Linked DNA regions of Homo sapiens: region 2 is linked to region 1. The links come from fine-mapping of genetic effects on gene expression. A gene starts in region 1. The other region holds a variant in brackets. All regions are shown on one strand. Distances are from middle to middle. Region 1 holds the start of LRRC36 (leucine rich repeat containing 36). Region 2 overlaps RANBP10 (RAN binding protein 10).

Region 1 (12,396 bases):
TTTTTTGAGACGGAGTCTCGCTCTGTCACCCAGGCTGGAGTGCAATGGCACCATCTTGGCACACTGCAAGCTCTGCCTCCCAGGTTCACGCCATTCTCCTGTCTCAGCCTCCCAAGTAGCTAGGACTACAGGCGCCCACCACCATGCCCAGCTAATTTTTTTGTATTTTTAGTAGAGACAGGGTTTCATCATGTTAGCCAGGGTTGTCTCGATCTCCTGACCTCGTGATTCGCCCTCCTCAGCCTCCCAAAGTGCTGGGATTACAGGCGTAAGCCACCGCGCCTGGCCGTTTCAGTGTTTATAAAGAGTGAAGACAAATCAGAGAACAAATCAAACACTGCACAGCATAGATGCCAAGAATAAAAGAATGATCTTCCAATTTTAATATATGGGTTACATAACCCCAGTGGGCAAAAATTTGCTATTTGAAAATAACAAATCAAGTAGTCTCTCTAATGAAAACCATTTACAGCTCATTTGGAAATTGAATTAACAACCTTTAACAAAGCTTATTTATAATGACAATGAATGTTTCTAATAAATAAAACTTTTTCTTTTTCTTTTTTTTTTTGAGATGGAGTTTCGCTCTCTTTGCCCAGGCTGGAGTGCAATGGTGTGATCTTGGCTTACTGCAACCTCCGCCTTCAGGGTTCAAGCGATTCTCCTGCCTCAGCCTCCCAAGTAGCTGGGATTACAGGCATGTGCCACCCCGCCCAGCTAATTTTTATATTTTTAGTAGAGATGGGGTTTCAACATGCTGGCCAGGCTGGTCTCAAACTCCCAACCTCAGGTGATCCACCCCCCTCGGCTTCCCAAAGTGCTGGGATTACAGGCGTGAGCCACTACACCTGGCCATAAAACTTTTTTAAAAAGACCTCAGGAGTCAACTTGAAAGATCACCTATTAACTAAAGTTAGGATAAACTGAACATCAATTATGATAAGAACTATAATGGATTAAAACTTACATTGAAATATATTGCTATGGTTTGAACGTCCCCTCCAAAACTCATGATGAAATGTATTAATTTATTCAGAGATAGGGCCTTGCTCTGTCAACTAGGCTGGAGGGCAGTAGCACTATCATAGTGCACTGCAGCCTAAAACTCCTGGGGTCAGAGGATCCTTCCACTTCAGCCTCCTGAGTAGCTGGGACTACAGGTACACACCACCAACACCCAGTTAATTTTTAAATTTTTTGTAGAGACAGGATCTTGCTGTGTTGCCCAGGCTGGTCTCAAATACCTGGCCTCATCCTCCTCCCTGGCCTTCCAAAGTGTGTAAGCCGCCATGCCCAGCTTTCATGTTGAAACGTAATTGCCAATGTAACAGCACTGCGAGGTGGGGCCTCTAAGAGGTGATTAGGTCAACGGTGGCTTCATGCTGTTATCATGGAGTTAGTTATCACGGGAGTTAGCTATCCTAATAAAGGAATTAGTTCAGTCTTCTCTCTCTCTCTCTCTCTCTCTCTCTCTCTCTCTCTCTCTCTCTTTCTCTCTCACATCTCACACATGCACCTTCTGCCCTTCCACCATGGAATGACCCTCACCAGATGTTGGCACCATGCTCTTGGACTTCTCAGCCTCCAGAACCATGAGCCAAATCAACTTCTGTTCTTTATAAATTACCTAGTCTATGGTATTCTGTTATGACAAGAGAAAAGGGACTAAGACATTTATTTATTTATTTATTTATTTAGACTGAGTCTCAGTCTTTCGTCCAGGCTGAAGTGCAGTGGTGCGATCTCAGTTCACTGCAACCTCTGCTTCCCAGGCTCAAGTGATTCTCCTGCCTCAGCCTCCTGAGTAGCTGGGATTATAGGCACCTGCCACCATGCCGGGCTAATTTTTTTTGTATTTTTAGTACAGATGAGGTTTCACCATGTTGGACAGACTGGTCTTGAACTCCTGACCTCAGGTGATCCATCCTCCTTGGCCTCCCAAAATGCTGGGATTACAGGCGTGAACGACCATGCCCAGCCCTAAGACATATATTTAAATCGATGAGTTTATAATGATACTGAGAAAGCAAAACAGTCCTCACTGGTCACCTTTGGAGAATGCTAAGAAAATAACTCATCATTCTGAAAGCTGGCATATAAGGTGAAAACAAATCAAGCTTTTATGCTGCCTTTCCTATACAAACTGTACCTCAGGATAAGCAAACAGTTGATGTGAGGAAATTTCTCTTTATAGAAGTATTACAGTTAATGAAGAAAAATGAAAGAAATAGACAATTACCATTTTGCAATCCCTAATGAATTAACTTAGGTAATCATATTCAGTGGCTGATATCACGAAAAGAAAGAACACTAGGCACCATATACTTCCTAACATAAACATACACCATTACCTATGAAATCGTCTTGTGAAAAAAAAAAAATCCAACCTGAATCTGATTAAGCCTCATCTAACTACCAATTCATAGGAAGTACAGGGAACACGGGAAAATGTTTAACATCTTAGGAATGCAATGAGCAAAGTTCAGGTTATAGTAAACTCTTTCAAAGCCAGTTTCTTCAAAAACAATTGAAAATGCGAGGGAAAAAAAATGGGGAGCCTACAGATCAAATAAGACTTAAGACATACATCAACCAATTGCAATATATGGACCATATACGGATTCTTATTTTATTTTATTTTTTAGATGGAGACTTGCTCTGCCACCCAAGCTGGAGTGCAGTGACGCGATCTCAGCTCACTACAACCTCCGTCTCCCGGGTTCAAGCGATTCTCCTGCCTCAGCCTCCCAAGTAGTTGGGATTACAGGTGTGAGCCACCATGTCCAGCTAATTTTTGTATTTTTAATAGAGATGGGGTTTCACCATGTTGGCCTGGCTGGTCTTGAACTCCTGGCCTCAAGTGATCCACCCACCTTGGCCTCCCAAAGTGCTGGGATTACAGGCATGAGCCAACGCACCCGGCCATGGATTCTAATTTTAAAAAATTATAGGACAACTGGGGAAATAAGAACACTAGTTAGATATTTCATGATATCAAGAAATCACTGTTCACTTTAGGAGGCTGAGTCACTTGAGGTCAGGAGTTCAAGACTAGCCTGGCTAGCATGGTGAAACCCCGTCTCTACTAAAAATACAAAAAAATTAGCCAGGCATGGTGGCACATGCCTGAAATCCCAGCTACTCAGGAAGCTGAGGCAGGAGAATTGCTTGAACCCTGGAGGCAGAGGTTGCAGTGAGCTGAGATCATGCCACTGCACTCCAGCCTGGGCAACAGAGCCAGACTCCATCTCAAAAACAAAACAAAACCAAAAAAAGAAATTACTGTTAAATTTTTTAGGTTGCATATGTGACTTTTTTTTAAAGTAATCTTAGCTTTTAAAAATACATACTGGCCAGGTGCTGTGGCTTGCACTTATAATCCCAACTCTTAGGGAGGCTGAGGTGGGTGGATCACTTGAGGTCAGGAGTTCAAGACCAGCTTGGCCAACATGGCAAAACCCTGTCACTACTGAAAATACAAAATTAGCCGGGCGTGGTGGCGGGTGCCTGTAGTCCCAGCTACTTGGGAGGCTGAGGCAGAAGAATCGCTTGAAATGCGGAGGTGGAGATTACAGTGAGCCGAGATCACGCCACTGCCCTAGAGCCTGGGTGACAGAGCAAAACTCTATCTGAAAAATAATAAAAACAATAAATAAATAAAATACTACTGAAATATTTATGGAGGAAATCACATACTTGGAATTTGCTTCAAAATAGTCAGTGTAGGGGGTTGGAGGTGGGTGGAGGATAGGTGAGGTATACGTGAAAGAAGCTTGGCCATGAATTGATGATAACTGTTGAGGTAGGCTAATAGAGTTCATTATTCTGTTATCTCTACTCTTGTATATATTTGAAAATTGCCATAATATAAAATTATAAAATAAGTGATAAATGCTTATATATGTAGAGAATATTTCTGGAAAACTATCCAAGATACTGGTAACAGTAATTGCCTTTAGGAAGGGGAACTAGGCCTATGAGACGGGGATGGGGGAGTAAAGACTTTCTTCTCACTGTACAATTTTTATTTTATTTATTTATTTTTTCGAGACGGAGTCTCACTCTGTCACCCAGGCTGGAGTGCAGTGGCGCGATCTCGGCTCACTGCAAGCTCCGCCTCCTGGGTTCACGCCATTCTCCTGCCTCAGCCTCCCGAGTAGCTGGGACTACAGGCGCCCGCCACCATGCTCCGCTAATTTTTTTTGTATTTTTAGTAGAGACGGGGTTTCACTGTGTTAGCCAGGATGGTCTCGATCTCCTGACTCGTGATCCGCCCGCCTCGGCCTCCCAGAGTGCTGGGATTACAGTCGTGAGCCACCGCGCCTGGCCCTCACTGTACAATTATTATATTACCCACAGAATAAATTAATTGAATTATTTTAACAGTCAAAATGAGTAAATATTACATATTTCCCCCCTCTACCAAATTAATCATTAGACTACCGACATGCTCTAGTATATCCTTCCTGTTCTGTTCTTGACTGCACATCATACGCTTCAGCTACCATCTATTTCTGCAGTCTCTTTTACAGCTAAAATTTTCAGCAAAAGTTCTTACTTTCACTGTCTCTTCCCCTCAAATATCATTTCCCTTTTTCATCCCACTCCAATCTGGTTTCCCTCCTCCCCACCCTCCCAAAACTCCCTCTGTCAAGGTCACCAGTAAGTTCCATGTTGCTAAATCTAACAGACACTCTGCATTTAAGTTGCTCAGCCTGTCAATAGCATTTGGCACAGTTGGCCATTGCTTGCTCGATACACTACCCCTTCTCAAATTCCAAGATACCACATTCTTCCTCTATACAACCTCTAAACACTGAAATATTCCAAGGTTGAGTCTTAAGCTTTCTTTCACTTCTCCATCGACATTCTCTCCTTAGCTGAGTTCATCCACTCCCGTAGCTTTAAATACCACCTATTGCTAATGTCTCCAAAATTTTCATCTCTAACCCTGACCTCTCCTCTGAGGTCCAGACCCATATATCCAACTGCCTACTAGGTACCTTACACTTGGATGTCTAATAGACATTTTATTATTTATTTATTTTATTTATTATTATTATTTTTGAGATGGAGTCTCGCTCTGTCGCCCAGGCTGCAGTGCAGTGGTGCGATCTCGGCTAACTGCAACCTCCGCCTCCCGGGTTCAAGCGATTCTCCTGCCTCAGCCTCCCGAGTAGCTGGGATTATAGACTTGAACCACCACGCCGGGCTAATTTTTGTATTTTAGTAGAGACGGGGTTTCACCATGTTGGCCACGCTCAGGTGATCCACCCGCCTCCGCCTCCCAAAGTGCTGGGATTACAGCGGTCAGCCACCGCCCCCCGCAGTTCTGTCACCTGCGGCAGGGTCCCCTGTTAACCTTGTTTCTCCTTCCCTACTTCACACTCCCCTCTTCTCTCTCAATTCCTCGGGCTCTGCCCCACACCCTCCCGTTACTTCAGTTCCTCCACCTCCACCTCCCTCTAACCTTCTGCCTCAAGTTATCCCCCCGCCCCCCAGCCTCAGGTACCGCTTCTCTGTGGTTCCCTCGCCTCTATCTCAGGTTCCCCGCCTTCCACTTCAGTTTTCTTTCCACAGCTTCTGACCCTACGTTCCCAGTCCACACCCTCCCGGCCAGACCCTACCCGGCTGCTCCAGCGTCAGCGCCCCCAGGCGGCGAATGCCTTCCTCGTCCAGCTCCCATTGCTCCGCCATCCCCGCCCGCCGCTCACCTGCCACCGCCCGCGAGACCACCCGGCGCACGCCAGGCCCCGCCCACTGCCCCGCCCCCCGCGCGCGCGCCGCCGCGACCCCGGGAACCGTTATTGGCCGGGTCACAAGCCCGCCCGCCCGCTGCTGGAGCCGCGACCATGGTACGGAGCCCGCTCTGGCGGGGGCGCCAAAAGCACCAAAGCGGCGAATGGGGGCCGCTGTGGCCAAGGATTGGGGCTAAGTGGTTCGAGACCTGGCTCTGGGGCATGGGAGAGAGCGAGGGGCCCCCAGCCGGGAAGGATTTGGGGGGCTGGCTCTGAGGAGTTAGAATAACGCTCTGTCTTGAGGGATGAAGTGTTCTGGCTCTGAGGATGTGGGGGACTCCGGTTCTGAGGGCTGGGCGTGTGCCCCTTTGACGGGGTGGTCTTCATATCTCAGCGCTGGGGGATGCTGACTTTGGGGCAAGGCGAGGGTGTGTGTGAAGGGGAGATCCAAATCTGAAGGATTGGAGCGTGGGGACAGAACTCTAAGGCATGATGGGGAGCTCCAGATCTGAAAGGTTGGGAATCCTGGCTCTGAGGAGTTGGGGTCCTGTCTTTAGAGCATGAGGAAGTTCTAGCTCTAGAAATTGACTTGGACGGGCTGGGCGCGGTGTCTCACGCCTGTAATCCCAGCACTTTGGGAGCCCGAGGTGGGCGGATCACCTGAGGTCAAGAGTTCAAGACCAGCCTGGCCAACATGGTGAAACCCCATCTCTACTAAAAATACAAAAATTAGCCGGGTGTGGTGGCACGGCCTGTAGTCCCAGCTACTCGGGAGGCTGAGGCAGGAGAATCGCTTGAACCCGGGAGGTGGAGGTTGCAGTGAACCGAGATTGCACCACTGCACTCCAGCCTGGGCGACCTGAGTGACAGAGCCAGACCTTGTCTCAAAAAAAAAAAAAAAAAAAAGGTAAGAAATTTACTTGGACGGAGCTTCTTCGGGGGAGAAGGATCAGCGTGGGAAAGAGAGAAGCTCTTTGTAATGGGGTGGGGATGACTGCTTTAGGGCTACCCCGTTTCCTGAAGTCAGTCCGGCAAGAAGCCTTTTGTCTTTCAAGCACCACAGGTTCCCCTAAGCTTGCCTGTGACTGAGGGCTGTCGCCAGGCTGCGATAGCTCTGCACTAACCAGCCCCTGAGTAGTCTTTGGGAAAGAACAGCCGCATCCCTAACCCCTACCCTCACTCCAGCAGGCACTTAAGAGCCCACCTGTGGATGGGACATGTATGTAAGAAGGAGCCAGGACCCTCTTGTCACACCCTATCCTTAACAAGAAAAGAGGGTGGGCTGGGCGTGGTGGCTCACGTCTGTAATCCCAGCACTTTGGGAGGCCGAAGCATGTGGATCACGAGGTCAGGAGATCGAGACCATCCTGGCTAACACAGTGAAACCCCATCTCTACTAAAAATACAAAAATAAAACAAAATAAAATAAAATAAAATAAAATAAAGCCGGGCGTGGTGGCGGGCGCCTGTAGTCCCAGCTACTTGAGGAGGCTGGAGGCTGAGGCAGGAGAATGGCGTAAACCCGGGAGGTGGAGCTTGCAGTGAGCCAAAATCGTGCCACTGCACTCCAGCCTGGGCTAGAGAGCGAGACTCCGTCTCAAAAAAAAAAAAAAAGAAAAAAAGAAAAAAAGAAAAAAAAGAAAGAAAGAAAAGAGGAACTGAGACCAGAACTGGGGCTCACCTTCGAGAAGTAGGTTTTCTTTGGCATCCAACATCTGCACACTCTGAGCACCCCCATTGAGCTCTCAGCCACCTTTAAGGAGAACAGAAAGCAGAATCAAGGGTCCTTCCTTGCATATTTATGCTTTCTGGTCTATGTGAGACCCTTAGTCACTCCATTTGTTACATTCAGCCTTTGCCTGAACATGAACTTGTAGAAAGGCTTTTAGAAGGGCTGGGACTTAGAATTCTAGGTTAGCTCATTAGATTGACTTTTCTGGCTCTGCTTCTGTCAGTTATGCAATCATTTCACAATTTGTCATATTTCTCTTATTACCCCCTTTAACTCTTCTAGTCTCAAATGTGGCATATATAATTGCTCTTCTTTATGTCTGAATATTGCTGTGGGAGAGATGGACCCCATCCCATTCTTTCTTGCATGCATTTATTTTCCTTCCTCAGCTGTCAGAATGGGAAATGCAGGTTCTTTCTGGAGCAGGGAGCTTTTCCTTTCTTAAGTAATCACCTCTTACTTTAACACTGTTTTTCCCCCACGAACGTCTTAATGCAATTTTATAAACACAGAAAGATTGAAAGAATTGTACAGTGAGCACCATATATCCACCACCTGCATTCTACAATCAACATTTTGCTCATATTTGTTTTATCACATGTCCATCTAGCAATCCTATCTGTCCATCAATCTGTCTTTTTTAAATTCATCTCAAAATAAATTGCAGATATCAGTACATTGCAGTCCAATCACTTCAGCCTGCATAATTTTTAATTAGAATTCGATATTGTTTTATGGTTCTTTTTAGGTAAAATTCTATATACTATTTACTACCCTTTAAAAAATATTTTTACAAGGGTAGTGCCCTTTATTTTAAAATTTGATATGGATGGTTTGTATGTTTGATGGCTCTCTACTTTTCCATCGTATTGATAAACTAGGTCATCTTGAAACAAAGAAGACAATTCACTTATAAATAGATGACCTTAAACTTTTTTTTCAACAACCTCTTGTCCAACAGATGTACAGATGACCTTAAACTTTTTTTTCAACAACCTCTTGTCCAACAGATATACAGATGACCTTAAACTTTTAACAATGAGCTGAGGAAGGTTAGTGATCTTTGCTGCCTTTGTATATATGAAAAGGTATCTATAGCATTCATCCTCCAGTAATGTAATGTCTCTGCAGGTAAGATCCCAAGAGAGTTCTGCATGCGCTCCATGGAATGGACAGTACCTCATCTTTTTTTTTTTTTGTAGATCTATTGAGATATAATTCACATACCATACAATTCACACATTTTAATGTGTACAATTCAGTGAGTTTTAGTATGTTCAGAGTTGTGCAACTATCATCACAATCAATTTTAGAACATTTTCACCATCCCCAAAAGAAATCCCATACTCATTAGTAGTCACACCCCATCTCCCCATAGCCTCTCCAGCCCTAGGCAACCACTAATCTATTTTCTATCTCTAGAAATTTGCCTTGTCCACACATTGCATGTGGATGGAATCATATGTGATTTTTTGTTTGGCTTCTTTCCCTTGGCATAATGTTTCGAATTTCATCCATGTTGTTATCATGTATCAGTACTTCATTCCTTTTTATTTTTTATTTTTTTAGAGACGTGCCTCACTCTGACGCCCAGGCTGGAGTGCAATGGCACGATCACAGCTCACTGCAGCCTCAAACTCCTGGGCTCAAGTGAATCTCCTGCCTCAGCCTTCCAAAGTGCTGGGATTACAAGCACAAGCCACCATGTTCATCCCATTCCTTCGTATTGACAAACAATATTCCATTGTGTGGATATACTACATTTTGTTTACTCATCTGTCAGTTGATGGACATTAGGTTTATTCCAACCTTTTGGCTATTATGTTCTATGAACATTAGTCTAGAAATTTTGGTGTGGACATATGTCTTTATTTGTCTTAAGTGTACACCTAGGAGTGGAATTGCTGGCTCATAGTAGAATAACTCCATGCTTTACATTTTCAGGACCCACCAAACTGTTTTCCAAAGTGCCTGCACCATTTTACACCTCCACCAGCAGTGCATGGGGGTTCTGGTTTCTTTGTCGACACTTGTTATTACCTATTGTTTTCATTGTAGCCATACTAATGGGTGTGAAGTAGTATTCTGTTGTGGGTTTTGATTTGCATTTCTCTGATGACTAAGGATGTTGAGCATCTTTTTTCGTTCTGTTGGTCATTTGTATATATTCTTTGGAGAGATGTCTATTTAGATGCTTTGCCAATTTTTAAATTTGGTTGTCTTTTTGTTATTGAGTTTAAGAGTTCTTTATATATTCTAAAAACAAGTTCTTTATCAGACAAATGATTTGCAAATATTTTGTTCCATTCTGTGAGTTATCTTTTCACCTTCTTGATGGTGCCCTCTAAAGCACAAATGTTTTTAAATTTTGATTAAGTTCCATTTATCTATTTTTTTGGTCACTTTTGCTTTTAGTGTCACATCTAAGAAAGTTTTGCCTACTCCAAAGTCATGAAGATTTTCTATTTTCTTCTAAAGATTTTATGGTTTTAGGCTGGGTGCAGTGGCTCACGCCTGTAATCCCAGCACTTTGGGAGGCCAAAGCAGGTGGATCACGAGGTCAGGAGATCGAGACCATGCTGGCTAACACAGTAAAACCCCATCTCTACTAAAAATACAAAAAATTAGCCGGGCGTGGTGGCGGGTGCCTGTAGTCCCAGCTACTCAGGAGGCTGAGGCAGGAGAATGGAGTGAACCCGGGAGGTGGAGTTTGCAGTGAGCCGAGATTGTTACCACTACACTCCAGGCTGGGTGATACAGCGAGACTCCGTCTCAAAAAAAAAAAAAAAAAGATTTTATAGTTTTAGGTCTGTTTCACTTGCAGCTAATTTTTGTGTATGGGTTGAGGTAGGGGTCCAACTTTATTATTATTGTTATTATTATCTTTTATGCATATGGATGGGCAGTTGTCCCAGCACCATTTTTAATAAGGACTATTCTTTGTCCATTGAATCATCTTGGATTGCTTATCAAAATTCAATTGATCATAAGTGTAGGGGTTTTATTCTGTACTCTCAATTCTATTCCACTTATCTTTATATTTATCCTTATGCTGGTAGCACACTGTCTTGATCTAGCTTTGAAATAAGTTTTAAAAGTGTGGGATGTGAGGGTGATCTGGCTGTGACATCTGTCACTCCATTGATTGCCAGGGTTGATTTGGCTGATCTGGCTGTCTAGGCGGGTGTCCCCTTCTTCCCTCAACGCTCCACGTGCGTCCCTCCTGAAGCTGCGTGCTCAGTCAAAGAGGACGACCATCCCCAATAAAGGAGGACCAGTCTTCAGTCAAGGGTATACAAGTATCTGCTCTTCCTAGCTAGAACCTCCAAACAAGTTCTTAAGATCCGTTGTAGGAGAACGTAGGGTAGTCAAGCTTCCAAGACTTCAGACACATCCTAATGAGGCGCTGCATGTGGCAGTCTGCCTTTAAAAAAAAAAAGTGGGAAATGTGACTTCTTAAACGTTCTCCTTTTTTCAAGACTGTTTTAGCTATTCTGGATCCCTTGTATTTTCATATGAATTTTAGCATCAGTTTTTCAATTTTTGCAAAAAGTCAGGATTTTCACAGAGATTGTGTTGAATTTGTAAATCAATTGGGAGACTATTGCCATCTTAACGATATTAAATCTTCCAATCCATGAGCATGAGATATTTTTTCATTTATTTAGGTCTTTTAAATTTTCAACAATGTTTTGAAGTTTCCAGTGCACATGTATTTCATTCTTTTGTTAAATTTATTCCTAAGTATGTTATTTTTGATGCTATTGTAAATGGAATTGAATTGTTTTCTTAATTTCACTTTCAGATTGTTCATTGCTGAAGTATAAAAATACAACATTTTTAAATATTGCTCTGCATCTTTCAACCTTGTTGGGCTCATTTTTTTGTTTGTTTTTCTTTTTTGAGACAGGATCTTGCTCTGTTAGGCCAGAGTACAGTGGCACAATCATAGCTCACTGCAACCTCAAACTCCTGGTCTCAAGCCACCTTCCCACCTCAGGCTCCCAAAGTGCTTGGATTACAGGTGTGAACCACCATGCCTGGCCTGGACTTATTTCTAATAGTTTTCTGGTGAATTCCTTAGGATTTTTTATATACAAGATCATGTCATCAGCAAACAGAGATAGTTTATTTCTACCTTTTCAATCTGGATGCCTTTTTATTTCTTTTTCTTGCGTAGATCTCTTTTTCATTCCCCCTTTAGGAGGAGTCTGGCATGGCTCATGAATCAGCAGAGGACTTGTTTCATTTCAACGTAGGGGGCTGGCATTTCTCAGTTCCCAGAAGCAAACTCTCTCAGTTTCCAGACTCCCTGCTGTGGAAAGAGGCTTCAGCCTTGACCTCTTCAGAAAGCCAGAGGCTATTTATCGACAGAGATGGTTCCACATTTAGGCACGTGCACTATTACCTCTACACCTCCAAACTCTCCTTCTCCAGTTGTGCAGAACTGAACTTGCTGTATGAGCAAGCATTGGGTTTGCAGCTGATGCCTTTGCTGCAGGTAAGATGCTCTTGTTTTCTGGGAGTGGTGGATCAGTAACATGGCTTTACATCACTAAATATTGTTTCCTGTTATATATTGGTTGCTGAGATGACCCTCTTAATGGGCAAATGTAATAAGTGTGTTAAAGTAATAAATAATTTCCTCATTAGTATAGGGGTGAGTAAAAAGGAAAAAAAAGTAATAAACAATACACTGAAATTACCTGCTTTTGTTTTTTCGAGACAGGGTGTCTGCTGCAATCACAGCTCACTGCAACCTCCACCTCCCAAGCCCAAAGGATCTTCCCACCTCCCACCTCAGTCCCTCTGAGTAGCTGGGAACACAGGTGCATGCCACCATGCCCGGCCAATCCTTTCCATGTTGACCAGATTGGTCTTGAACTCCTGGGCTCAAGTCGTCCTCTCTAATTGGCCTCCCTAAGT
Region 2 (12,396 bases), 470 kb before region 1:
GGGATGTTTGGTGGCCTACCCTGGCTGCAGGGCTTAGGGTGTGCAGTGGAGTAGCCTGACTTATCAGATGTCCTCGCCTGATCCTAGACACACATGTCCATGCTGCTGCTGCCTTTCCCCATTGTAGCTGTTGCATTTCTTCCCTGGGTAGAGTGAAGGAATGTTCTGTTGGATTCCTACCAGATTGCAATGTTAGGGGACAGAGCTGAAAGGTGCATGGTGCTGTGTAGGGCCAGAGAATTGTGGCATGCTCTGGGCCGGGCTTGATCAACTTACTGTTCCATTTAATCTGTAAACTTGCTTTTCTGTAGATTTGAGTACACCTCCTTTGTAAAAGGTATTTATAAACCCAGTTGTTAGTGTCATTGTTCTCCAGAACGTCCTTTGTTTTGACAATATCTTTTGGAGAAGAACACACTAAGCTAGTCTAATAAGGAAAGTTTCATGTCAAGATTTCACAGAATATTTATATATACCTACTATGTTCCAGGCCCTATACTAGGTATAGGGAGAACAGATGTAAAGCCAGCACAGATCAGCTTTGTCCTCAGGAAGCCTGTGGCCCATTCAGTAGAGAGTGGACTGAAAGTCTTTCTGCAAGAGGAGGCAGAGCCTGGGAACAGTTGGGAGGAATGAGTAGGAGTTCCCCAGTAGGCGAGACCTGTTAGACCTATGAGTCTGATGGGTAACTAGCTTGACTTCTGGGTGCTAGGCTTTCTGGGCACTCCTCAAGTATAAGAGAGCTCTGTGGAGTAGGAGGGGCTGTGTTTGAGCTAAGAGCTTGGCACAGACTGATGGGCTTCAACTGCATTTTGCCGAGTCACCAGAGCTGTGAACTCGGGGAGCGGGTCTGGTGGGGTGAGGAGACATCAGAGCACTGCCAGTGGTGCCAGGAGATAAGGGGCATCCAGGTCTGTCTTTCTAGGAAGCGAAGGAGGGCCTGAAGCTGAGGGTCCCTGGGGAGGAGCAATGTCTGCAGGCAGAGTTCATGGACCTGTGGGTGTCCCTGGCTCTTAGTGATGACACATGGAGGGTGTGGCTGGCTAGGCTGACAGATGCTCCAGTGTGACCCTCAAAATAGACTGTAACATCATCCCAGCGGCGGAGGCCTCCTGACATGTGATGGTTGCTTTACCCAAGAGTAGTAGGCCTGGGCTAGAGCACTGGAAGGCATGGAGAGGGGTGGGGGCATTTTCCTCTGTAGCCAGTGTCTGGGCCCAGGCCCAGAGCAGGGGTCTCTGACCACAGCCAGCCTTCCCTTGCTCCTGCAGCTGACTTCCTTTGGCCAGGCAGCAGTGCACTCATTCATTCATTCCAGACACCAGGGCGCAGTACCCATTGTTTTTTTTTTTTGGTTGTTGTTGTTGTTGTTGTTTTTGAAACAGAGTCTCGCTCTGTTGCCAGGCTGGAGTGCAGTGGCACAATCTTGGCTCACTGCAAACCTCCGCCTCCTGGGTTCAAGTGATTCCCCTGCCTCACCCTCCCGAGTAGCTGGGACTACAGGCGTGCACCACCATGCCCAGCTAGTTTTTGTATTTTTAGTAGAGACGGTGTTTCACCATGTTGGCCAGGATGTTCTAGATCTCTTGACCTCATGATCTGCCCTCCTCAGCCTCCCAAAGTGCTAGGATTACAGGTGTGAGCCATCACATCCATTGTTTTGTCCCAGCCTGGGCCCCAGGAGCACAGGCATGAGGCCCCACCGGTGGTGTCGAAGGGTCAGGCCACCGTATGTGTCATATCCAGGGGTGGCCTGGAGGATGGACTGTACCTCAGAGTTTGAGGAAAACATCATAGAATCATATAAGAGGTGATGTGGGCTCTGGAAAGAGGAGTTAGAGTGTTCTAGGTGAACAAAGTGAGAAGCAGATGCTTCAGGCAGAAGAAACAGTGCATAAAAAGACATGGAGCTGGCCGGGCGCAGTGGCTCACACCTGTATTCCCGGCACTTTGGGAGGCCAAGGCGGGCGGATCACGAGGTAAGGAGATCGAGACCATCGTGGCTAACATGGTGAAACCCCGTCTCTACTAAAAATACAAAAAATTAGCCAGGCATGGTGGCGGGCGCCTGTAGTCCCAGCTACTCGGGAGGCTGAGGCAGGAGAATGGCGTGAACCCGGGAGGCCGAGCTTGCAGTGAGCCGAGATCGCGCCACTGCACTCCAGCCTGGGCAACAGAGCGAGACTCTGTCTCAAAAAAAAAAAAAAAAAAAAGAGATGTGGAGCGCAGAACATGAGGTCGGTAGGGCCAGACTGAAAATACCTTGTGTGTGGCCTGGCTCATGCCTGTAATCCCAGTACTTTAGGAGACTGAGGCGGGCAGGTCACTTGAGTTCAGGAGTTCGAGAACAGCCTGGCCAACATGGCGAAACCCCATCTCTCCTAAAAATACAAAAATTAGCCAGGCGCTAATAATAGTGGTGGTGCATGCCTGTAATCCCAGCTACTTGGGAGGCTGAGGCAGGAGAATCACTCGAACCTGGGAGGTGAAGGTTGCAGTGAGCCGAGATCACGCCACTGCTCTCCAGCCTGGGTGACAGAGTGAGACTCTGTCTTAAAAAAATAAAAAAGAAAATACCTTGTATGCTGTGGCCAGGGAGCGTGGGCTGTATCTTGAGGGCAGTAGCAGTGTGGGGGGCTGTGGATCTACCCATGCTTTTGAGAGTGAAGAAAAGAAGAGACTCTGCCAGTCTGGTTCAGCCAGGCTTCTCTGGCCAAGAGCCCTTGTCCAGGGTGGGCCAGTGACTTTAGGTCTTTGGCTCTAGCATGGTTTTCTCATAGCGGTTGTCTTTTTTTCTCTTGGCTGTTCCTTTGGTATGAAGAGATGAAGGGATGGGGTGTGAAAGACTGGTAGCCAGGAGGCTTCTCAGAGGTGAGAGGACTCTGCTTGTGCTGGAGTTCTGGTATTTTGGTTTTGCCAGCTCCCATCTGAAAGACAGTAATGCCCCATGTTTTATACCCAAGCATCTCCTCTGGTGAGCCAGAATCAGCCAAAGTGATTTTCCATGGAGACCTAGAGAGCCACTGTTAATTAAGATATCTTGATTAAGATCTCACCTGCCACATTCCTGGTGTGGAGGACCATCTAAGCTTAGGCCCTTCCAGCTGAGAGACAGCTGTGGCTGGCTTCTCACCCTGGATCCCCTCACCAAGTTCCAGTCTACATGCATTGTACAGTGCTGTTGAGAACTTTGGTGCTCATATGTCATCTGGGGAAGGCGTTGTCCTGCCCGCCCTGATAAGAAGGTGCTGTCCTTGCCCAAGGTAGGTACAGGCCGTGGTTGTGCCCCATTTTCCCTTACTGCCCCCCGGAGTTGATGGTCTTACAGGCAGATGCTGAGCTTTGGGCTGCACTTCTACTCAGGTAACACATTGTGCTATTTGTGGAGACATGGAATGTTTGGGTTCTGGAACACAGGGTAGGATGTTTGGGTTCTGGAACACGGGGTAAGAGAACTGGAGTCTAGATGGTGGCCACTGTTCTTTGCTTTTTTTTTTTTTTTTTTTTTTGAGAGAGGGTCTCTCTCTGTCACTCAGGCTGGAGTGCAGTGGCACAATCATGGCTCACTGCAGCCTCGACCTCCTGAGTTCAAGCAATCTTCCTACCTGAGACTCTTGAGTAGCTGGGACTACAGGTGCATGCCATCATGCCTGGCTAATTTTTATTTTATTTATTTAATTTATTTTTTGAGACAGAGTGTTGCTCTGTCACCCAGGTTGGAGTCCAGTGGAGTGATCTCGGCTCACTGCAACCTCCGCCTCCCAGGGTTCAAGTGATTCTCATGCCTCAGCCTCCTGAGTAGCTGGGATTACAGGCGTGTGCCATGACACCTGGCTAATTTTGGTATTTTTAGTAGAGACGAGGTTTTGCCATGTTGGCCAGGCTGGTTTTGAACTCCTGACCTCAAATGATCTGCCCACCTCAGCCTCCCAAAGTGCTGGGACTACGGGTGTGAGCCACCATCCCCAGCCCTGGCTAATTTTTAAATTTTTTGTAGAGACAGGGTCTTGCTATATTTCCTAGGCTGGTCTGGAACTCCTACGCTCAATCAATCCTCCTGCCTCAGCCTCCCAAAGTGCTGGGATTACAGGCATGAGCCACCACACCTGGCCTGTGGCCACTTTTCTGGTAGGGCCTCCCTCCTCACTGTATGTTGCTACCCAGGCTCCAACTGTGAGCTGAGAGTGGGGAGCGTCGTTGCCTTCTTTATAGCTGGGGCCTTCTTGGTCAAGGATTAGCTTTTAGAGAAATTCCTAGAATTCACTTCACCTCCTGCCTTTCTGCCTTGATGGTGTTTTTGTTCTCTGGAACTTTTGGTCTTTTCCCTGTATGGGTCATGGTGTAAGGGAGATTCCTTGTTAGAAGAGAAGCAGAAGCTCATCAGGCCAGAGCACAGGAGGATGAACCTAGCAGCCCCATGTGGCAGGCACTGTGTGCCATTCCTATTATGGGACCATTGGGAAGGAATAAAGGGCTCCAGAGTGGGTCTTGTGTGGTCGGGTCAAGTTGGAAAGAAGGGACTCATCAGTGGAAGAGGGATGGATAATTATGTCTAAATGCAAAGATGTTCCTCTGCCTCTCCATTCTGTTCAAAATCCATATAAAATGTCTTTGTAATTCTAGGATCGTTGGTGTTGTGACTTGGTGGTGGAACAGAGCCTAGCCCTTCTGTCATGAAGGGGCCAGAACAAGATGCTCTGTACTATATAGGGAAGTTGGGAGGGGACTGGGGAAGCCCTTGGCACCCCTCTTATGCCATTTCTTGTTACTTAACTCTTGGAATTAGAGATGCTTGGGGTTTCAGGGGAGTTTAGTTTAGGTCAGGGGTGGCAAGTGTGAAGGCCCCAATACCCCACAATACCCTCAGCTTCTATGACCAACATTACTGATTGACAGTAGCACTTGTTCTTGTCCAGACAGAGCCCAGAATTTTTCTCAATGCACAGCACATCAGGCAGCTATAATTTACTGGTCAGAGTTTCATCATGAGATGAAATCTACTAGCCCTCAGGGTGGAGGTGGTTGGAAGATAAGTGGATAGAGGCCCAGATGGTTGAGGGCTCAGCTTATTTCTTCTAAAGGAGAGTCCCAAGGCAGAGCTGAACCAAGAGGAAAGAAACAGAGGGGTTGGATTGCTGAGTAGAACTGATTCTAACCCAGTTTATAAAGCCATGTATCTGAAATTGGCATGGACTTTTTAAAAAAATGGAATGCCCTGTTTTTATAACAACTTGCACCAGTAGTTTGTCAGTAGTTATATTTACTTTTATAAAAATCAAAATAGGCTGTGTGCTGTGGCTCACACCTGTAATCCCAGCGCTTTGGGAGGCCGAGGCAGGCGGATCACAAGGTCAGGAGTTTGAAACCAGCCTGGCCGACATGGCGAAACCCTGTCTCTACTAAAAGTAAAAAATATTAGCTGGGCATGGTGGCAGGCGCCTGTAATCCCAGCTACTCAGGAGGCTGAGTCAGGAGAATCACTTGAACGCGGGAGGTGGAGGTTGCAGTGAGCTGAGACTGTGCCACTGCACTCCAGCCTGGGCAACAGAGTAAGGCTCTGTCTCCAAAAAAAAAAAAAAAAAATCAAAATATTTTTATTTTACGTATAGAAAACATTTGTTTGTTTGTTTGTTTGTTTATTTTTGAGACGGAGTCTCACTCTGTCGCCCAGGCTGGAGTGCAGTGGTGCGATCTCAGCTCACTGCAAGCTCCACTTTCCGGGTTCACGCCACTCTCCTGCCTCAGCCTCCTGAGTAGCTGGGACTACAGGTGCCCGCCACCGCACCTGGCTAATTTTTTGTATTTTTAGTAGAGATGGGGTTTCACCGTGGTCTCGATCTCCTGACCTCGTGATCCACCCGCCTCGGCCTCCCAAAGTGCTGGGATTACAGGTGTGAGCCACCGCGCCCGGCCGAAAACCTTTATTTTTAAAAAATTATTTTATTTGTTTGTTTATTTTGAGACGGAGTTTCACTCTTGTTGCCCAGGCTGGAGTACAATGGCACGATCTTGGCTCACCATAACTTCCGCCTCCCGGGTTCAAGCGATTCTCCTGCCTCAGCCTCCTGAGTAGCTGGGATTACAGGC[G/A]TGCACCACCATGCCTGGCTAATTTTGTATTTTTAGTAAAGACAGGGTTTCTCCATGTTGGTCAGGCTGGTCTTGAACTCCCGACCTTAGGTCATCCTCCTACCTCAGCCTCCCAAAGTGCTGGGATTATAGGTGTGGACCACCGCACCCAGCCTATTTATTTTTTTGAGGCGGGGTCTCACTCTGTTGCCCAGGCTGGAGTGCAGTATTGCAATCATGGCTCTGCAACCTCCCCTCCTGCTCAAGAGATTCTCCCACCTCAGCCTCCTGAGTAGCTGGGACTACAGGCACATGCCATCATGCTCAGCTAATTTTTTTTTTTTTAAGTAGAAATGGAATTTCACCACTTGCCCAGGGTGATCTTCCTGGGCTTAAGTGATCTGCCTGTCTTGGCCTCCCGGAGTACTGGGATTACAGGTGTGAGCCACTGTACTTGGCCTTTTTTTGTTGCTGTTTTTTTTTTTTGTTTTTTTTTTTTTTTAATTTGAGGCAGGGTCTCACTCTTGTCACCTAGGCTGGAGTGCAGTGGCAAGATAGTGGCCTGAAATTTTTTTTTTTAACTGTTAAAGAATATGTAGGATTTTTTTTAGGCTGGGCCCAGTGGCTCAAGCCTGTAATCCCAGCACTTTGGGAGGCTGAGGCAGGTGGATCATGAGGTCAGGAGATCAAGACCATCCTGGCTAACACGGTGAAACCCTGTCTCTACTAAAAATACAAAAAAATTAGCTGGCCATGGTGGCACACACCTGTAGTCTCAGCTCTTCGGGAGGCTGAGGCAGGAGAATTGGTTGAACCTGGGAGGCGGAGGTTATAGTGAGCCGAGATCGTGCCACTGCACTCCAGCCTGGGAGACAGAGTGAGACTCCATCTCAAAAAAAAAAAAAAAAAGAATATGTTGGATTTTTTTAATACCTGATAAAGTCTACGTTTAAAAAATACACAGCAGGCCGGGTGTGGTGGCTCGTTTTTTATTTTGAGACGGAGTCTCGCTGTGTCACCCAGGCTGGAGTGCAGCAGCATGACCTCGGCTCACTCCAACCTCCGCCCCCTGAGTTCAAGCAATTCTCCCGCCTCAGCCTCCTGAGAGCTGAGGTTACAGGCATGCACCACCATGCCTGGCTAATTTTTGTATTTCTAGTAGAGATGGGGTTTCGCCATGTTGGCCAGGCTGGTCTCAAACTGCTGATCTCAGGTGATCTGCCCGCCTCGGCCCCTCAAAGTGCTGGGATTACAGGCTTGAGCCACCACCCCGACCAGTCCCAGCACTTTGGAAGGCCAAGACGGAAGGATTGCTTGAGCCTAGGGGTTCAAGACCAGCCTGGACAACATAGTGAGACCCCCACCTCTACGAAACATTTTTAAAAATGAGCGGGGTGTGATAGAATACTTCTGTAGACCTAGCTACTTGGGAGGCTGAGGCAGGAGGATTGCTTGAAACCAGGAGTTTGAGGCTACAGTGAGCTATGATTGAGCTACTGCATTCCAGTGTGGATGAGAGAGTGAGACTCGTCTCAAAAATAAATAAATAAATAAATAAAATAAAAAATAAAAATAAATAGCAGAGGGATAGAGAGATGCAGGTTTAAACAAATGCAGGCTTATGGCCATTATGTGCATAGTACTAGTAGAAGCAAATGCAGAAAACAGAAACCAGAAATTTCCAGTAGAAAGGGGTTTAATATATGGACTTTGATGCTTATAAAATTATCAAGACTTAGAATTTTCATGTAGTGGTGGACTAGGCTACTTAAATAATGTCTCCGATTGAAAATAAGATGGCAGATAAAATATTACAAGCGAGGCTGGGCACGGTGGCTCACGCCTGTAATCCCAGCACTTTGGGAGGCTGAGGTGGGCGGATCACCTGAGGTTAGGAGTTTGAGACCAGCGTGACCAACATGGTGAAACCCTGTCTCTACTAAAAATACAAACATTAGCCAGGCATGGTGGCGTATACCTGTAATCCTAGCTACTCGGGAGGCTGAGGCAGGAGAATTGCTTGAACCTGGGAAGCGGAGGTTGCAATGAGCCGTGGTCGTGCCATTGTGCTCCAGCCAGTCAAACAAGTGAAACTCCATCTAAAAAAAAAAAAAAAAAAAAAAATTACAAGCCAGCCAACTCAAGGCCAGTGTCTGGATGAACACCTGTAACTAGAGTTAAGGGTAGTGTCTGTGTACCAAAGGACATTTGTGGTGTTCACACACTGCTATGCTTGTGTGCTTCAGCTCCGTAATTACACAGGGCCATAGAGGTGGAGGTTAGACCCCTGTGGGGTCTAATGGGAACTCTCTCAAATTAAGCTGGGGCATTAGTGGCTACACCCTCCGGTTACGGGCAGTGCCTTTGGGTTTTTGAATGTGGCAGGCTCTGGAAAGTCAAGGTTTGGTACTTGAGACTCTGTTAGTACATTAGAGAAGGAGCTCAGAACCAAGGATGTGTAACCTGCCTAGGGCCACCAATAGGGGCTGTTCTGCCCCTTTTGTCTGGTAATCTCTCGGGGTGCTTTGATAGTGCTGGTGACATTGGGCACATGAGGGTCTCCTGACCCATACACAGAACCACATTTCTCCATACGAGCACCCTAACTTGAGGCCCCTTTGCTTTCTGGCCTATTCTTTTTTTTTTTTTTTGAGACGGAGTCTTGCTCTGTTGCCAGGCTGGAGTGCGGTGGTGTGATCTTGGCTCACTGCAACCTCTGACTCTCAGTTTTAAGCGATTCTCCTGTCTCAGCCTCCTGAGTAGCTGGGACTATAGGTGCGTACCACCATGCCCAGCTAATTTTTGTATTTTGTATTTTATGGGGCTTCACCATATTGGCCAGGATGGTTTCGATTTCTTTTTTTTTTTTTTGAGATGGAGTCTCGCTCTGTCACCCAGGCTGGACTGCAGTGGCGGGATCTCGGCTCACTGCAACCTCTGCCTCCCAGGTTCATGCCATTCTCCTGCCTCAGCCTCCCAAGTAGCTGGGACTACAGGCGTCCGCCACTACGCCTGGCTAATTTTTTTTTTGTATTTTTTTTTAGTAGAGATGGGGTTTCACCGTGTTAGCCAGGATGGTCTTGATCTCCTGACCTCGTGATCCGCCTGCCTCGGCCTCCCAAAGTGCTGGGATTACAGGCGTGAGCCACGGTGCCTGGTCTAGCCTATATTTTTTGAATAGTTCTAAGGCCCAGGTCACTCATCTCTGTAATGCCCTTCCTCTTAGTAGCAAATCTACACAGAATTGGGCTCAGTGGGTGACTGCATGGCTTCCTGGGGCAGGGGCGGGTATGGTTGCTTGCTGGAGGAGCAGCTTACACGTAGCAGCCAGTGTCATGATGGACTGAAGCTTGCTTTATTTATTTATTTACTTTTTTTTTTTTTTTTTGAGACGGAGTCTCACTCTGTTGCCCAGGCTGGAGTGCAGTGGTGTGATCATAACTCACTGCAGCCTCAAACTCTTGGGCACTAGCAATCCTCCTGCCTTGGCCTATCAAAGGCTGGTATTACAGGTGTGAGCCAGCACACCTGGCATTGACTATGGCCTTAAGTGGGCCGATTAGACTATGAAATAAAATTCCTAGCACTGAATATTAGCCCTCATTTCAGACCTAAATATCAGTTGTTGTTTTTCCTGAACCATCTTCCAAGGATCATTTTGTAACTGAGGTCCCAGAGTTCCCCTTTGATGTAGAGGCTGTTGATTTCTTTTCTGGGGCAGGTTCTGATAGCAACAAGATTGCCAGCCTGCTGAACTGTGGCTAAGGTATTAGATGTCAAGATGAAACTGTCCAGTGAGATTCCTGGAGCCCCTGGGAGGTCTAGGGTTGGGGGTACTGGTGACTAGCCCTTTCACCTGAGGGTAGGTGGCAGAGCTGGTACCTTCCTGCAGCCTCCAACAGCCATCTCAGCCCTGAGGCTGAAGACCTTGTCTCTTCTCTCCTTTTCATCACTTCCTACCAGAGCCCTGTGGGTGTAGGGACATCCTGCTGATGGAGCTTAAATTTAAAACGTCGAGCCCCATTGGCTCCTGTATCTTATGCAGCAGTTCTTAAAAGTGCCCATAGGCTTGCCAGCCCATGAAATATACCTTCCCTCTAAAAAGAAATTGGTAAAACTGGGCCGGGCATAGTGGCTCACACCTGTAATCCCAGCACTTTGGGAGGCCGAGGTGGGTGGATCACGAGGTCAGGAGATCAAGACCAGCCTGGCTAACATGGTGAAACCCTGTCTCTACTAAAGATACAAAAAATTAGCCAGGCGTGGTCGCACACGCCTACAGTCCCAGCTACTTGGGAGGCTGAGGCAGGAGAATCGCTTCAACCCGGGAGGCAGAGGTTGCAGTGAGCCGAGATTGCGCCAATGCACTCCAGCCTGGGCGACAGAGCGAGACTCTGTCTCAAAAAAAAAAAAAAAGAAATAAATTGGTAAAACTGGCCAGGCTCTGTGGCTTATGCCTGTAATCACAGCACTTTGGGAGGCTGAGGTGGGTGGATCATGAGGTCAAGAGTTTGAGACCAGCCTGGTCAACATGATGAGACCCCGTCTCTACTAAAAATACAAAAATTAGCCAGGCATGGTGGCGAGTGCCTGTAATCCCAGCAGCTCAGGAGGCTGAGGCAGGAGAATTGCTTGAATCTGGGAGGCGGAGGTTGCAGTGAGCCAAGACTGTGCCACTGCACTCCAGCCTAGGCAACAGATTGAGGCTCCATCTCAAAAAATAAAAAAATAAAAAATTGGTAAAAGTAGAAACAGTTGGGTCCTTCTTCACTCTTGTCATTTGCTGTGGGCTAAGTGCGGGACTTCTGGCCCCAATGTGAGGCCAGAATACTCTTATGCTGCCCATTGTGCTCTGTGCCAGGGCCTCCCTTGTCTCATCGGGAAAAGCCAGATGCGGTCCTTGCTGGTTTGCAGGGCCATAGGGGTGTTCTTGGTGTCTCTGTGTATGTGTGTGTGGTAAAATATATGTAACATAAAATATGCCATTTTATCCATTTTCAGTGTGTAATTCAGTGGTATTAATTGCATCCACAATGTTGTGCAACCATCACCATATCACTGTCTATTTCTAGAACTTTTCCATCACCCCAAACAGAAACTCTGTACCCATTAAGCAGTAATTCTCCATTTCTCCTTCCTCCTAGTCCCTGTTAACCTCTGATCTACTTTCTGTTTCTATGAATTTGCTTATTCTTGATAGTTCATGTAAGGGGAATCCTACAATATTGGTCCTTTTGTGTCTGACCCATTTCACATAGCATTATGTTTTCAAGGTTTATCTGTGTTGTGGCATGTTTCATAACTTCATTTCTTCTTCTTCTTTTTTTTTTTTAATTTGAGACAGAGTCTCATTCTGTCACCCAGGCTGGAGTGCAGTGGTGCGATCTCGGCTCACTGCAACCTCCGCCTCCCAGGTTCAGCAATTCTCCTGCCTCAGCCTCCCGAGTAGCTGGGATTACAGGTGTGCACCACCACGCCCAGCCAATTTTTGTATTTTTAGTAGAGATGGGATTTCGCCATGTTGGTCAGATTGATCTTGAACTCCTGACCTCGTGATCCGCCTGTCTTGGCCTCCCAAAGTGCTGGGATTACAGGTGTGAGCCACTGCGCCCAGTCCATTTCTTCTTATTTATTTATTTAGTTGTTTTTAAGATATATGGTTGTCTGGGCATGGTGGCTCATGCCTGTAATCCCAGCACTTTGGGAGACTGAGATGGGTGGATCACCTGAGGTCATGAGTTTGAGACCAGCCTGACCAACATGGTGAAACCCCGTCTCTACTAAAAATACAAAAAATTAGCCAGGCGTGGTGGTGTGTGCCTATAATCCCAGCTACTTGGGAGGCTGAGGCAGGATAATCACTTGAATCCAGGAGGTGGAGGTTGCAGCAAGCCGAGATGGTGCCATTGCACTCCAGCCTAGGCAACAGAGTGAGACTCCATCTCAAAAAAAAAAGAAATATGGTCTTGTTCTGTTGCCCAGACTGGAGTGCAGTGGCACAATCATGGCTCACTGTATCCTTGAGCTCCTAGGCTCAAGAAATCCTCTAGCCACAGCCTCCTGAGTAGTAGCTAGGATTGCAGGCATATGCCACCATGCCTGGGTACATTTTTTTTTTTTTTTGAGATGGAGTCTTATTCTGGTGCCCAGGCTGGAGTGCAGTGGCATGATCTTGGCTCACTGCAACCTCTACCTCCCAGGTTCAAGCTATTCCCCTGCCTCAGCCTCCTGACTAGCTGAGACTACAGGCGTGCACCACCACACCTGGCTAAATTTTGTATTTTTAGTAGAGATGGCATTTCACCATATTGGCCAGGCTGGTCTTGAATT

What was found.
Region 2: its variant is fine-mapped to the expression of LRRC36 in visceral fat (GTEx, PIP 0.92).

What each region holds. Positions count from the first base shown.
Region 1 is chr16:67,320,164-67,332,559 of GRCh38, reverse strand. LRRC36 (leucine rich repeat containing 36) reads right to left here and starts at 5,745. Exons shown (of 14, transcript NM_018296.6): 1 at 5,628-5,745. The coding sequence starts at 5,697. It overlaps KCTD19 (potassium channel tetramerization domain containing 19), which reads left to right and starts at 5,819. Exons shown (of 16, transcript NM_001100915.3): 1 at 5,819-5,855; 2 at 11,675-11,971. The coding sequence starts at 5,853. It also overlaps the pseudogene RN7SKP118. RefSeq lists a silencer at 5,703-5,852 and an enhancer at 7,608-7,687.
Region 2 is chr16:67,789,103-67,801,498 of GRCh38, reverse strand. The region is part of intron 2 of RANBP10 (RAN binding protein 10); the gene reads left to right. Among named protein-coding and RNA genes, the nearest start is that of RANBP10, 11 kb to the left of the region's middle. The variant G/A (reference allele first, on the strand shown) is at 6,088.